Regions from separate parts of the Homo sapiens genome. Here region 2 is linked to region 1. The links come from fine-mapping of genetic effects on gene expression. Tissue or cell type: whole blood. Region 1 holds a variant in brackets; the other region holds the start of a gene. All regions are shown on one strand. Distances are between the middles of the regions.

Region 1 (8,107 bases):
CTCTGTGGCATGTACTTTCTTTTCAATAAATCTGTGCTTTTCTTTTGTTGCTTTATTTGTGCATTTTGTGCAATTCTTTGTTCAAAATGCCAAGAACCTGGACACCCTCCACTAGTAATGTAGAGTGGAGTAGATAAATAATTTAGTAGAATTATTAGATCTTTTTTTGCCTAATATAACTTTTTCAATACTTAAGTAAATAAAAAAAGAAATTTATTATAACATAGTCCAATAATAAATGGTATAATTAGATTTTGGTGAGTATGCTCTTAATTCTTTTGTTCAATCAATTAAAACACCAATCAGTAGCTGAATTAAGTTTGGGAATCCAAATAAAGAGGGAGTCTTGAGAAGTGACTAATTCTATCCCTGAATGATAAAACGTATTCTTTTATTTAGAATGGAAGGGTTTCTAGAAAATTAGCTGGTGTTTCATCGAGGAGGGGTTAAGGAGAAGGTGGTTTCAGGGGCCAATGGAATACAAGAGGGAACAAGGGAAAGGTTACTCAAGGTGAATCAATTAAGGATATTAAAAATGGTAGCAACAATACCAATTTGGTTACCTCGCCATTTATTCTACAACCTATATAGATTTTGCCTATGTTGCTCTGCAGATAATTAAGATTTCATTTCATTTGTAAAAGTATTTGCATTTAGTCTGTGAAAGTATTAATCTGTCCATAGCACTGTCACAGGGTATATCCTTTACATAGTGGGTTCCCAAGAAGATGTAACACCCTTATCTCAATAATTTCTTTGCACATCAATTGATAGTGATAACACATAAAAGCATTCTGTTTTGTTGATGGCATTTTATGTCTGCTTGATAATCAAAAGAAGGTAGTCTGCTACATTAATAGTTAGAATAGAAAATTTCCAACAGTGAGATGCATTGTATTTAGACTTCTCATCCAGCACTTTTGAATGGTGTGAACTATCAAGGATACTTGCTATGGTCTGATCCAAAAAAGAGCCAATAAGGAATTTCATAAATGGTTCTTGATTAGGACCCAGTCACTGTGTTGGAGTTAGTGATATGGTAGCACAGATCTCTCTGGGATGGAGGCCTCAATCTATGAATAACATTATACACAATGGCTCAATAATATGAGGTAATATTATCATTCGTAGTCTACTAGCCTTTTAAAGTCTTGAGGGCAAAAAAGAACAAATGGGTGGTCCCTGCCCTTGATTGTTTTATAATAGCCTAACACAGTTTTCCTGTTTAATGTGGCCATTATGCTTATTTGGGCAAATGGTTATCTCAAATATGTGATATGCAGTACAGTCAATTTCTTCCTTAAAAATATGTCTGTTTTCTCAACTCCTCTTACATTTTGAGGATAGTGCAAGAATTATTTTACATGGAAAAATGTATGGATTTTGTATTGAGTCAGTGGGATAACAACTTCAATGCTTCTCTTTTTATACTTTTGCCGAGGAATGAAATGGGAATACCAATACTTATGCTACTACCGCTGGCAATAACAACAGGCCATCTCCAATGGCGAACAGAGCATTATCTATCTTAAAAGAGAGAAAGTTAAATCTATCCACAGTGAAATATTTGAAAATATAAAAACAGAGAGAACATAATATCATAGAAAGAGCCCCACACAATTAACAGACATTAACAATGAAAGGGACAGCAGTGTGTTGGTATAAACACAACCTCATTTTCCTGAACTCCATTTCACCTTCTCATTCCTATTTCATCTCTTGGCAAAAGTATAGAAACAGAGGCATCGAAGGTGTTATCCCACATACTCAAGCACTGGTCAAGGCAATAATGATTACATCAGCACTGAGCCTTACAGATTCATTTAGTATTACAAGAAAGAACCTTGAAAACAAACCATTTCTATTGTGTTGAGCCCATGGTCTACAAACCTCTAGGCATTCATAAGCAACTCTCAATATTTCAGTGTTCTAAGAGAAATCACATAGCTACCTAAGTTTGTGCATGCTAAATAAAATCTTGTTTCTTTGTTTTTGGCTGAAATACCAACTCAGGGTGGCAACCATGGTTATCTTATGCTAACGAAAATGTCTTTGGCTAATATAATAAAAATTGTTCCACTTTGGGAGGCTGAGGCGGGTGGATCACAAGGTCAGGAGATCCAGACCATCCTGGCTAACACAGTGAAACCCCATCTCTACTAAAAAATACAAAAAACTAGCCGTGCGTGGTGGCGGGCGCCTGTAGTCCCAGCTACTGGGGAGGCTGAGGCAGGAGAATGGCATGAACCCGGGAGGCAGAGCTTGCAGTGAGCCGAGATCACGCCACTGCACTCCAGCCTGGGCAACACAGCGAGACTCCATCCGAAAAAATACATAAATACATACATAATAAATAAATAAATAAATAAATAAAATAAAAATAAAAATTGTTCAAAACATGGGACCCAACGGGGGAAAATAGTAACAGGTTAGGGGTCTTGATGGCCTAACTCCAGTAGTCCAATCTGTCCCCCATTTTGAGGACACTAAGACTTGCAGAGGTGAAATTATTTGCCCAAAACCACTACCCAAGAGAACACTCAGTTCAGCAAAGGTATTTTTAAACCATAGCACATAACATTCTATGCCTGCTTACTTTTTAGATAAAAGAAGAATGTGAAGCCAGTGGCCCGCCTGATGGTGGATAGGTGTGTTTTTCTAAACTTCAGCAGCCTTCTCTTACAATAAGTAATCTCAGTCATTATCCTCAGCCAGGTTTCCTCCTATAAGATAGAAATATTAACCCCTATCTGTTATGGTATTGATAAGAATTGCATGTTAAGTCAACCACTCCTTTAACATACTGCAGAAACTTCAGTAAATGCTACCTATTATAATTAGATATGCTAGACCAGTAGTTCTCAAAGTGTGGTCATCAGAACAGCAGCATCATCTGGAAATTTGTTAAAAATGCAAATTATTGAGCCTCACCCTGAACCTACTAAATCAGAAACTTTTCAGGTAGGGCCCAGCAATCTGTTTTTGTTTTGTTTTGTTTTGTTTTGTTTTGTTTTGTTTATTTTGAGATGGGGTCTCACTCTGTCACCCAGGCCAGAGTGCAGTGGTATGATCTCGGCTCACTGCAACCTCCACCTCCCGGCTCAAGTGATCTTCCCACCTCAGCCTCCGAGTGGCTGGGACCACGTGCCATCACAAGCAGCTAATTTTTTGTATTTTTTTGTTGTTGTAGAGATGAGGTTTCACCATGTTGCCCAGGCTGGTCTCAAACTCCTGAGCTCAAGCGATCTGCCTGCCTCAGCCTCCGAAAGTGTTGGGATTACAGGCATGAACCACCGTGCCCAGCCCAATGTGTTTTTTAAATCTTTCAGATGTTTCTGACGCACAGTCAAACTTTGAGAATTAGGTCCCACCATGACAAAACAAAACTGAAATTCCCCTGAGGATATATTTGTACTTACAAGCATTTTGTTATGTTTATCATTCGCACATTTTAAGGCATAAACTAGCAGTAATATTGGGAATTAATTTTAATAATATGGCTAGCTAAAAACTTGATGATGGGCAGGAGAATAAAGTCAAGAGAAAGCCTGAACACTCAGTGCCACTCCCTAGGCATGCCAAACAGAGAGCCTGTAGCAGGAAAGATTGTTAGAGAGGAAGCACTTGCGTGTGGATGGACAGAGGGAAAAATAATTCTTCCTTAATTATTCAGAAATCTAGGCCGGGCCTGGTGGCTCACACCTGTAATCCCAGCACTCTGGGGGGCCAAGTGGGAGGACTGCTGAGGCCAGGAATTTGAGACCACCCTGGGGCAATGAGGCAAAATCCTGGTCTCAGCAGCAAAATAAATAAATAAATACATAAAATCTATCTATCTATCTATCTATCTATCTATCTATCTATCTATCTATCATCTATCTATCTATCCAATTACCTGGAGTGTTAACAACAAAAATTCCAGATCCTTGGCCAGGCAGGTAGCTCACGTTTGTAATCACAACACTTTGGAAGGCCTAGGCAGGAGGATCACTTTCCCCCAGGAGTTCCAGAGCAGCCTGGGCAACACAGGGAGACCACATCTCTACATTAAAAAACAAACAAACAAAAAATAGCCAGCTGTAGTGGCG[T/C]GCGCCCGTAGTCCCAGCTACTGGGGTAGCTGAGGTGGAAGAATCGCCTGATCTCGGGGAGGTGAAGGCTGCTGCAGTGAGTCGTGATGGCACCACTGCACTCCAGCCTTTGGTAACGGAGCGAGAACCTGTCTCAAAATAAAATAAAAAGTCTGCATTGTATGGTGGAGAAAGGCTGTCTCTGCCTATGCCATTCCTTCTAACTAAACGTCTTGTTTCCTGTTCTCTACCCAGCCTAGCCCTTTGGTTAGCATCTCCTCCTCAACTCCAAAAGTCTCAGGCATCCATTTGGCCAGTATCTTTCAATCCTCAACCTCGCAGAAGTCATCCCCCTTGTGTTCCCTTCGCTCTGGGGCCTTATCCAAATGAGTACATTTTGCCCTTTGACAATTTGTCTTTTTTGTTATTCTGCTTCTCCTTACGGGAAAGCGCTCTTTATGGGCTGTAAAAGAAAAAAGTGCCCCTTTCAGTAACTATCCCCAGCAAGGGTCTAAGGAGCCATTTCTCTTCCACCTCCGGAAATAAGAGCGGACTGCGGTGGGGCGGAGCCAGGAGAACGGCGGCTCTCTCGGCCAACGGACTTGCTTCCCACCGCGCTGAGACTCCTGGGAGGAGAATTTCAGTTTTTTGGCTTTTGGTTTTGTTTTGTTTTGTTTTCCTTCTTGGATAGAAGTAGCACCCTAATCCCTGGGCTTCTGTGCCGTTTAGCATGTGCTTTCCTGGATCTCAAGGCCCATGGCCTACCTTTCTCTGTCCAGGCAGCTCTGGGAGAGTGGAAGAGTGGCTCATCCATCTCTGAAAAGGAGATTCCCCAGTACTGTGAGCTACCGTGTGAATTTGGGACTCCCCTGGCCTCCTGAGGGCCCCTCCAGCTCCCCTGGTGCCTTCTGCCCATGTCACTATGAAGTCTTCCTGTTATGAGCCCACACGTCTAGGGTGGGAAAGATTAAGAATTTTTGAAAATTCTTAATCTTTTAAATAATTCTTAGACTTAATTTTTGTTTTCAGAAGAACCGGGAATGGAGGTTTTCTGAAGACAAACGTTTTCCTAAAAATGGAAGAGGCAGAAAAAGGCCCATTATACCATCAGTGCAGGTAAAGTGAACAGAAGAAAGATGGAATAAGCAGAGGATGTGTTGCGTATTCCATTTTCTTTGGGAAAATTTCCGTTTCTTTTAGGAAGTGAAAAGCCCCTACTTTTTGGTGACTATTAGAGGAGCAAGCCTCCTTGGATTCTTAACTTATTTGGGGGCTCTCTCCCTTCCCTCACTTTTTTTCTCTTTCTAAAAAAGGTCTGCTTTAATTTCTTCAGAGTAGGTGATTTCATTTATAAGGCCTTAGGAATATGCACACTTTGTTTTCTTTAGTCTGTAGCAGCGGTCCCCAACCTTTTTGGCATCAGGGACCACTTTTGTGGAAGACAATTCTTCCATGGACGGGGGCGTTGGGGAGAACGGGGGTTGGGGAGATGGTTTCGGGATGAAACTCATCATCAGGCATTAGAGTCTCATAAAGAGTGGGCAGCCTAGATTCCTCACATGAGCAGTTCACGATAGGGTGCTGATCCTGTGAGAATCTAATGTCGCCACTGATCTGACAGGAGGCAGAGCTCAGGAGGTAATGCTGGCTGCCCACCACCTGGTGTGCTGCCTGGTTTCTGACAGGTACCGGTTGGTGGCCTGGAGATTGGGGACCCCTGGTCTGTAGTACTTTTTGTATTTTCTACATTCTATGCAATGCACTTATATTAATGAGTCAGAAAAGTAGGATATAACTATTATTTAAAAAGAAAAATAACTGTTGAAGTTCAGGAGCTGCAGACAGGACAGAATTAGTTTAACATATTATTTCGAAGTTTTTAGGACTAGGGATACCTTCTTCAGTTTTATCCAACTGTAGGCATTGCTGTTATTATTGGTGCATGATGAAGAGACTTGGTACTTGTGTCTTAGGGATTTTAAGGCAAATGGATCATGGAGAAAAGACCCATTTAGGTGACGGGCTTATGAAGAATGGCTATATGTAAGCAACTAGTGGACTAGGAGAAAGTAGCAACCGTATCTGAAAGTTTATAAGTGTCAACATAATAACTCAACAAAACAAACATTTTGTAATGTAAGTCACATGTAGCCTGGTCCTTGTCTTCTAGAAAGTCATATTTTAGAGTTCTAAGACATGAGATGAAGGATATTTTATCCTCTTCTGGTTAATTAAGGCCTTCAGATACTAGTCCTGAAATTCAACTTTTTTGCTAAGGTTTAAAAATACATTTTTCTCTCCAAAAGCTTCATAGAAGCCCTAGAGACTTTTTCCCCATTGGTTTTTTTTTAAATAGTTTAAAACATAATTATAAACTGTAAATTTTATTTATTCTTTTGATGGTTGAAGAAAGCAGCATATAAGACAGTGGGACAAGTATGATGAAGGCGAGTATTTCCCAAGCATCCAATAAGGGAAATTAGAAGTGAGTGGTGGAGAAAGAACATCTCAATATTTCTGAAATCTGAGAAATATGGAAGCTGATAAGTGAACAGGAATCCAGTGTTAGAGGAAAAACTTACCAAATATTTCCATATAGCAAAAATGTTGGGTTGATTTTAAGTTGGAGTTGTCCTTTGAAGTATTGGCCCATCAAAGCTGCTATTATAGCAGAGCTGTCTGGTTTTTGAGGGACAAATTGCTTCTGGTGGTGATGGAGGTGGGGGTTGAAATATGTGGGATTTGTTTCTAGGACTTGCTGTCATCCTGTGGCAATTAGTGCTAGATCAATGTTTATCTAGCACAGTGTATTAATAGAATTCTCTGTTTTAAAGAGTATAACTTCTGAACCAATTTAGGTGCTTTGTAAAGTTAGCTCTTTTATCTGTTAAGTTTTGTAGCAGGCTTGTGGTTGCAGTATTGTTACATGATTCATATTTCTAGCCTAAGTCCTTGGATCCATGAGTTTATTTATTTTGGGATTTGTAAAGAAGGCTGTGTCTCTTTTTGGCATACTTGTATATATTAGTGTGAAAAAAACATTTTTGTATACTATTTATCTGTAAAAATAATTTTAGAGGTCTTGTGTATATGGTTATATAGAATCTTTCCCCAGTAATGGAGGAGGTGGCGGGAGGTCTTTGCATGAGCTTTAGGGCTTCTAGTACATGTTACATGGTTCCATAAGACTTCACTTACAAAACACAAATTCAAAACTAAATTAAGAATTGTAAGACGGCAACTTCAGCATTAAAACCCAAGCTTGAAGCCCTGTGTAGTAACATGCCCATGAAGCCAGCCTTGCTGATTATATTAAAAGATTCTTCTCCAATGGATGAAGGATACCCATTGCTTATATATTCCTGTTGTGTGATTTGTCTTGTGCAAAATGAAAGGCTCATTCACACTGATGACATTCGAAGTGTTTCTCTTTGCTGCAACTGCTCATTGATTACCTAAGGACAGAGAAATTGTCCCGTACTCATTGGTTACATTCATAAGATGTCTAATATAAATTGTCTCATGTGCCTAACAGATGAAAGATCAATACGTGCTTTTCCACATTCATAGGGATTCTCCCCATTATATACTCTTATGTGTGGTAAATGAAGGATTATATTGGAAGGATTTTTTGTACTGATTACATTCATAGGGCTTTTCACTAGTGTGGTTTCTCATGTTTTCTAAGGGATGAAGTAATACTAAAGGCTTTCCCACCATCTTTGCATTCTATTTTGTATTCTCTTGTACACTGTAAGGGAAAAGCTGTAATCAATATGTCCCCAGTTTGAGCTCCCCAGTTTGCGCTCTCGTGTACATCAAACGTGAGTGCTTCCTGAATATTTTTCCAGTATAATCATGACAGTTACAGGGTTTTTCCCCAGTGTGAATTCTCATGAACACAATGGGAGTAGAACTTACACTGAAAACTTTTCTGTATCAATCACATTTATAGAGATTCTCCTCAGTATTCTCTTCTCTCCTCTAAGGACAGATCTAATGCTAAAGACTTGAAAATGCTGCTTACTGTCATTGTGCTT
Region 2 (8,107 bases), 150 kb before region 1:
AGCCAGGCACAGTGGCTTACACCTCTAATCCCACGACTTTGGGAACCCAAGGCAGGTGGGTTGCTTGAGCATGAGAATTCAAGACCAGCCTGGGAAACATGGTGAAACACCATCTCTACAAAAAATTAAAAAAAAAAAAATTAGCTGGACATGGGTGGCATGTGCCTGTAGTCCCAGCTACTTGAGGGGGCTGAGGTGGGAGGATCGCTTGAGCCCAGGAGGTCAAGGCTGCAGTAAGCCATGTTTGTGCCACTGCACTCCAGCCTGGGTGACAAAAGTGAAGCCCTGTCTCAACAAATAAAAATAAAAACCACCTCTGCTTTGCTCACCTCCTCCCTTAATAAAACATGTATAGAAGACTTTGAGCTCAATGGATTACATATGCATCGTACTCAGATATTTTACAAAGAACATGAGACTAGGGTTATTGAGAACATATTCCATGAAGAAAAATATCAGATACACAAAGTGAAAGGGAGAAGGGAAGCGAAGCAAACATAGGGGAAATACATTTTAATGATCAAGTTAATGCAGTTAGCAAAATGTAAAAACTCCCTGTGATCTTGGGTTGAGTCAAAGCTGCAAATCTGTGATCCATGAGGATTTTGCCCACTTCATATCGCAAGGACTCTCCTGTCAATACCAGCACACTCACCCCTCTGATGAGGTCCTCTACATTATCATGTGGGAAGGAACGGATGGCAGCAATTGTTCGGATTAAGCGCTCGGAGAGAGAGTATTTGCTCTGAATGCTCTGCATAATATACCACATACTGGAACTCATCAAGGCTCAAGGTGTTCACATGCTCCAAACTGCCTGAAACAAAGAAGTTTTCGGCATATACAATATCACTGAGCACACCTGTCTTTAGGGTTAGGTCTTCTCTGAGGCCTTCCCAATGCTAAAAGCAGATTTCAAGGAGTGATTAATACTATTTCCATAATCATAAGGAATTGGATTATAATAGTTGCCTAGGGAGTTGGATAAACCTGGACACAAATGTTCTACTCTAACCTAGTCTAGCACGAGATTTCCCCAAGAGGTACTAAGACCCCCGTGGAGCTCTGTGTGGTTTACAAACGACTAGGCAAGGAATAGGATTTTTAAAAGGCTGAAGAGGTCAAAAAACATTATTTTCCTTCTTTGAATTTTTGTGGTTTTTATGATCAGCACCACCATTAAGTTATTTATAACACTGGGCCTTGCAATATAGTTATGTACATATTGTTTCTCCATCGAAACTGTAATCAACTGGAAGGCAAGGACTTTGTCTTCTACTTTTTCACCCATGTAAGGCCAGCCACAGAATCTCACAAAAGGTAGGTATTTAACAAATATTGGTTGGTCGACTGACTAAACAGTATAGAAGTGATTGTTATGTGTGAAAAGAGAGGAAGAAGGCTATGGAGCAAATATATCTTAATAATGAAAAGTTATCTGAAACATTTTCAAATGTGTTCAGAAGAGGAAAAAAAGGAAATATTTGGCAGGGCGTGGTGGCTCATGCCTGTAATCCCAGCACTTTGGGAGGCCGAGATGGGTGGATCACAAGGTCAGGAGATCCAGACCATCTTGGCTAACACAGTGAAACCCCGTCTCTACAAAAAATACAAAAAAATTAGCTGGACGTGGTGGTGGGCGCCTGTAGTCCCAACTACTTGGGAGGCTGGGGCAGGAGAATGGCGTGAACCTGGGAGGCAGAGCTTGCAGTGAGCCGAGATCGGGCCACCGCACTCCAGCCTGGGCAACAGAGTGAGACTCTATCTCAAAAAAAAAAAAAAAAAAAAGGAAATATTTGAGGTAGTATTCTAAAATAGGTAAGGAAAGCAAAAGTATAACTACCCTGGAGTCATTTATATAAAACTAGGAAAAAATTAAAATTCAGAATAATAAAATGTACTTTCAGTTTTAGGAAAATTTGCAGATTTTAAAATGAGTTAAAGGTGGGGCGTGGTGGCTCACACCTGTAATCCCAGCACTTTGGAAGGCTGAGGTGGGTGGATCACCTGAGGTCAGGAGTTCGAGACCAGCCTTACCAACATGGTGAAAGCCCATCTGTACTAAAAATACAAAAAAAATTAGCTGGGCATGGTGGCGCACGCCTGTAATTCCAGCTACTCGGGAGGCTGAGGCAGGAAAATAGCTTGAACCCAGGAGGCAGAGGTTGCAGTGAGCTGAGGCTGCACTACTGTACTCCAATCTTGGCAACAGAGTGAGACTCCATCTCAAAAAAATAAATAAAATGAGTGAAAATTTTTAATAATTGGCTATTCATGGCAACTGAGAAATAGATTTGGTGAAATATATGTTGAAACCACAATAGGACAGAGTTCTAGGATGGAAGAAGAAAATAATGCAATATACTTCAATTCAACTTAAAAGGCTTGGCTGTATAAGAGACAAGAGTTAGGGACCATTTAAAATTACAGCCAATAAGGTAGAACACTTCTATGAAACAGTACATATCAAAAACAATAGGGAAAATATAATACACAGTATCAGCTCTCTAGGTGCAACTGCTTAGAAATCTGTGTTCTTATTATAAGCTCTTTGGGAATAACGATACTGATTTTTTCAATAGTACCTGAACACATGGTAGGTTCTTAACATCTGTTGAACCAATGTAAAGTTTATTACTTTAGATCCTAAGAAATTCAAGACTTGAAATAAATAAGCACATTACCCATATGAAATTGTTTTGGTCATTTAATAATATATAATGTTTTGGCGGGGCGCGATGGCTCACGCCTGTAATCCCAGCACTTTGGGAGGCCGAGATGGGCGGATCACTTGAGGTCAGCAGTTCGAGACTAGCCTGGCCAACATGGTGAAACCCCGTCTCTACTGAAAATACAAAAAAATTAGCCAGGCATGGTGGCATGCACCACCCCTGGTAGTCCCAGCCACTTGGGAGGCTGAGGCAGGAGAATCGCTTGAACCTGGGAGGTGGCGGTTGCAGTGAGCTGAGATCGCGCCACTGCACTCCAGCCTAGATGACAGAGTGAGACTCCATCTCAAAAAAAAAAAAAATATATATATATATATGTATATATAGTCTTTTGCTTTATTTTTTTTTTTTTGAGGCGGAGTCTCACTCTGTCATCTAGGCTGGAGTGCAGTGGTGCGATCTCAGCTCACTGCAACCTCAGCCTCCCAGGCTCAAGCAATTCACGTTCCTCAGCCTCCTGAGTAGCTGGGATTTACAGGTGTGCACCATCACGCCCAGCTAATTTTTGTATGTTTAGTAGAGACAGGGTTTCACCATGTTGGCCAAACTGGTCTCAAACTCCTGACCTCAGGTCATCCACCTGCTTTGGCCTCCCAGAGTGCTGGGATTACAGACATGAGCCACCATGCCCGGCCTATTTTTGCTTTTTGTGATTGTGTATCCCTTTATATATTATATACTATAAATTCTGATAGTTTCTATTTTGTGAATCAGTAGCCATTTATAGTAGATGTAAATTCCATTAAAAGAATGCAAGTAAAAATATTCATATGTATCGATAATTCAAATTAGGTATTTTTCTCCCGTTATCATGCACGGATAAGCTGACACACTTGTTTATATGTCTCTATGACATTTTCTAGATAGTTTAGATTTGGCATGTGTTTTAATCTCTCCAGTAGCCACTAAACTGCTCTGAGACAAGTATCTGTATCTTATAATTTTTTTGTTTCAAGGAAAAAAAAAGACAAGTGCATTTGAGTTGGTAATTCCAAGAATGGCAGCAGAAGACAGAGCATCTAAAGCAGGAGGCTTGGACCAAAGTGGTTCTGTTGCCTGTAATCCCAGCACTTTGGGAGGCCAAGGCAGGAGGAACTCTTGAACCTGGAAGTTCAAGACCAGCCTGAGCAACATGGCGAGACGACCCCAAAACCCAATCGTCTCTACAAAAAAATTCAAAAATTAAAATAAATAAATAAAGTCGTTTTGTTAACCATTTCTGGGCCATGATAATCGGATGAAACTAAATCCTGAACTAATTTCCCGGGCGCTCTTGGGCTCTGGGCTAAGAACTCCTGAGAGTATGGTCAGTGGTCTGCTGCTGCCTGGAAGCTCCCGGTAAAGGAATGAAACTTCAGGGCAGACAGCATTCACTTCAGGAATGGTCAAGGAAAGCTAAATTCGATCTCACTAGACAGCAGCCCGTGTAAGGTTTGATCCCCTTGGAAGGCCCTTTCCTCTGCTAGAGCTGAAAGCCCTGTCTCCCTCGTTTTCTTTTGCTACGGGATCCAGAGAAAACACCAAAGGGCACTTACTGAGAAGCTGAAAAAAAAAAAAAAAAAAAGCAAACTGGAAAAGAGAAGACACAACAGCTCTGATGCGAGGGAGGCCTCGGCCCCGCCCCCTCCCGCCCCGGGAGAACCTTGGCCGAGCCTGCAGCGCCCGTAATCCCCACCGCACCTGCTGCGGGAGGGCCCGCGGCAGCTGTCTCGCTGAGGCTAGGGGGCGGGGGGCAAGGGCACGAAACGCAAGGACGTGCGGTGTCACTTTCTGCACGGGCTCTAAACAGATCGCAGCAATCCCGGTAGGTCCGGTACTGAAAGAGAATCACGCAATTTGCGCTGGGGGGCCTCAGACGCGGACCAACCCCCTCTTCGATCTGCCTTCTAAGGCCCGGAAATAAGTCTCAGCCTCGAGAACTAGAGCACTTCGACCAGGGAGTAGAGGAAGCGTTATTGGGCGTGGTACCCTGGGTTAGGAAACCTGGCTGTAGACCCACTCCAAGGACCGCACTCACCGAATTGCTGGGCTGAGGTGGGGGTTGAAAGCCGCTGTCAAGGCGTGACCCGGAAGCAGAAGCTGTCGGGGGCAGGCCCTCTGTTTACCGGACTAGAAGACCAACTAAGATGGGCGCCTGCGCACTGATGAGTGTTCGTCAGCGGGGCGCGCCTGCGCAGACTTGTGCAGCAGCTTTCGCCCTCCAGAGGCCTAGTTAGGGGGTTACTTTCTCCTTTTACTCAGAGGCTTTGCGCGCAGGCTCAGTGCAGCGTTCTCGGCCACAGCCGCAGGGTTCGGGTCTTGGTCCTGCAGCGGGGATAAAAAAGCTCAGGAACCCTGAGTGTTGGGCCGATTCTATATGGTTGCACCTGCGTGGACCAGGCCAGCAGGGGTCCATCCACAATGGTTCAGTTGCTTAGGAGACTAAACTCTTAGTAGGAAGTGTCTTTGACAAAAATACTTACAGCATTATTCATAATGGTGGAACGAATCTATGCTCCTTAGAACCCTCCTGTACATGTCCACCCTCCTTCAAGTAAACCATATCAAAGACAAACTCAACCACCCAAGAGGTGTAGTATTCTAAATGTAGAGGAATAAATGACCTTTATAACTCTTATTAGGGTTAATGAAACTTCCCGCACAAAAACATGATGACACCTCTGAGTGACAGACTTTCTGTGCAAAGCATAAACATTTTGAAGTCAGCAGCACATGGTGGTGGTGCATGGAAGGAGTGAAGCAGCAGCCCATTTAGGCAGACTGCAAGAGTTGTGGTCTGCCCGGTAGCCTGTTTAACCAGAGTGCCCCACACCTACTCCCCAGAGCTTGTTCTAAGCAACCAAATCTAACCAATTAGAGATTTAAAGCAGGCCCAGACAGATCATGTACATCAGTAAGAGGATGGTAAACTGAAAGTTCATGACCTGGTCTGAGGAGTGGGCCTCCTTTGAGCTCCAGACTCAAAGGAATTTTGCCAGGTAGGAATATGCCCTCCACTTCCTGCCACTGCACCATGGTGAGATCGTCCATTTTTCAAAAGAAGCTGAAATACAGATTTTTTTTAAAAAGTGAATTTTTCCAAGTTGCAAATGTTGGCAATGTTTTTATTATTATTATTATTATTATTATTATTATCATCATCATTATTTATTTTTGAGATGTAGTTTCGCTCTTCTCACCCAGGCTGGAGTGCAATGGCGTGATCTCGGCTGGCTGCAACCTCAGCCTTCCGGGTTCAAGTGATTCTCCTGCCTCAGCCTCCTGAGTAACTGAGACTACAGTCACCTGCCACCACACCTGGCTAATTTTTTTTTTGTATTTTTATTAGAGATGGGGTTTCACCATGTTGGCCAGGCTGGTCTCAAACTCCTGACCTCAGGTGATCCACCCTCCTCGGCCTCCCAAAGTGCTGGGATTACAGGCATGAGTCACCACACTGGACCACATCTCTCAAATTTCTTGGTTGGGAAATGCTGAAGTATATAAATTCTGGGAAACCATCAGCATCTTACAAATGTAAGAATGAGCGGAGTCTCCCAGGGAGTGATAAAATAGGCTCTCAATACAGGTTATTTTACTTATTTATTGAAAAACTGAGTACACTTTTATTTTACTTGGCCTGCAACTCAGTATATGCAGAAAACTACTCTATGTCACACTCATGATCAATATCTTCTTATTTCCATTTGGCATGTCATTGAAAACCTAGCCCATCACTTAGCTAAAAATCACATAAGAGACCCCTAGAGAAATCAAACTAACTTTTTTTCCCCCCAAACAATAGATCTCATCTTTATTAGTCAAATCAGTACCTGCTGATAGGGCAGTGGAGCAAGCCTGACAGTGATATTCATTAACAAAGAAGACAAAACTTATGCTTTCAAGTACAAAGATAAACTTTGAATGGCAGAGAGCCTAATCTGACTATCATCAGCCACCAAGAACACAGAAGAGCAAATAACTCAAGAAGAGAGAAGCCAAAGTGCTATAAAAATTATTCTTTTCTGTGAAATTCAGTTCCACAGCCTGTATGAGCAAGGGTCCAAAACACTGGAGAGCCAATAAAGCTGCTGGGAGGGCCCATTCATAATGGGAGATGCACTGGCTGTGCCTCCCTTGCTGTGTCCTTCCATGAGCGTCCTCCACTCTTCACTGACTTCATTTAGACTTGGTCCTCTGGTCTCACCACAGCTACCTGGGAGACTTTGAGTTGTAATCTTACAGTTTCAAGAGTCTATTTTGACTGAACCCAGGAGTAACATGCCAATCCAAAATAGAAACATTCTCATGGTACAATGGTGCAAAGGTCATTCTGTAGGTTGCATATATATAACATATATATATACACACAATATATATATTACATATGTACTATATATTACAGATATACTATATATATTACATATATATACACAATATATATATTTCTATGGAAGACAAAGCTTCCTTTTTTTTTTTTTTTTGAGATGAAGTCTCACTCTGTCACCCAGGCTGGAGTGCAGTGGCACGATCTCAGCTCACTGCAACCTCCACCCACCTCCCGGGTTCAAGCAATTCTCCTGCCTTGGCCTCCTGAGTAGCTGGGGTTACAGGCGGGCACCATCACACCTGGCTAATTTTTGTATTTTTAGTAGAGACAGGGTATCACCATGATGGCCAGGCTGGTGTCGAACTCCTGACCTCAGGTGTTCCACCCACTTCGGTCTCCAAAAGTGTTGGGATTACAGGCGTGAGCCACCGCGCCTGGCTGCTTCCTTCCTCTTTAACAAGAGAATATTGCACCCAGCATCACTGCTTTGGCTAGCTCTTTTTTCCTGTGTGCCCTCATGTGTGCAGCAATTGAACTGGCTAACAATTTCTGCATTCTTCCTGGTCTGGCCAAAATAATCTGGAAACTCACCATCTGGCCCAATCAAAGACATTGTTATTGTATGATTCACTAACATGGTCTTCATCTTCATCCTTGGGGCTAGAGCTGTAATATACTCTGTATGCTCTGGCCACGTGATTGATCTCTTCTTTCGTGCCAATCAGGCCAACCAGTTTGGGAGAAAATTCTTTCACATAATTTGCAATGGCCTTTTTTATGTCCCTCTCTGGGTCAATGGTGATGAAAAGTTAAATTTGGCAGAGTTGGAACACTATCTCACCCACAACTTGAATTATTTTTTTCTAGTTCTTCTGGACAGATATCAGTAATGACTGAAACCAGAATAAATCAACAGCCACTGACCCAGGTAGTCTTTGTCAGTTTCAGGCTCTCCAAATGTGTTGTGAGGGAAAATGGTCCCCCAGTAAAGGCTTGTTGATGCTTCACTGCTGTTCCTTCTCTAGCTTCTCTGTCTTTTCTATTTTGAATACTTCACTCCAGGCAGTAA

Evidence for each region. PIP is the estimated chance that this variant, and not a neighbour inherited with it, causes the effect.
Region 2: ASB8 starts here. The variant in region 1 is fine-mapped to the expression of ASB8 in whole blood (TOPMed, PIP 0.98).

Annotation. Positions count from the first base shown.
Region 1 is chr12:48,302,820-48,310,926 of GRCh38, forward strand. It overlaps LOC105369753 (a long non-coding RNA gene), which reads right to left and starts at 4,610. Exons shown (of 4, transcript XR_944923.3): 1 at 4,511-4,610; 2 at 3,896-4,042; 3 at 2,597-2,723. The variant T/C (reference allele first, on the strand shown) is at 4,089.
Region 2 is chr12:48,152,713-48,160,819 of GRCh38, forward strand. It overlaps ASB8 (ankyrin repeat and SOCS box containing 8), which reads right to left and starts at 4,803. Exons shown (of 4, transcript NM_024095.5): 1 at 4,747-4,803; 2 at 656-817. The coding sequence starts at 784. It also overlaps the pseudogene LOC100421855. RefSeq lists enhancers at 4,587-5,109, 4,614-4,663, 4,684-4,733, 4,764-4,983.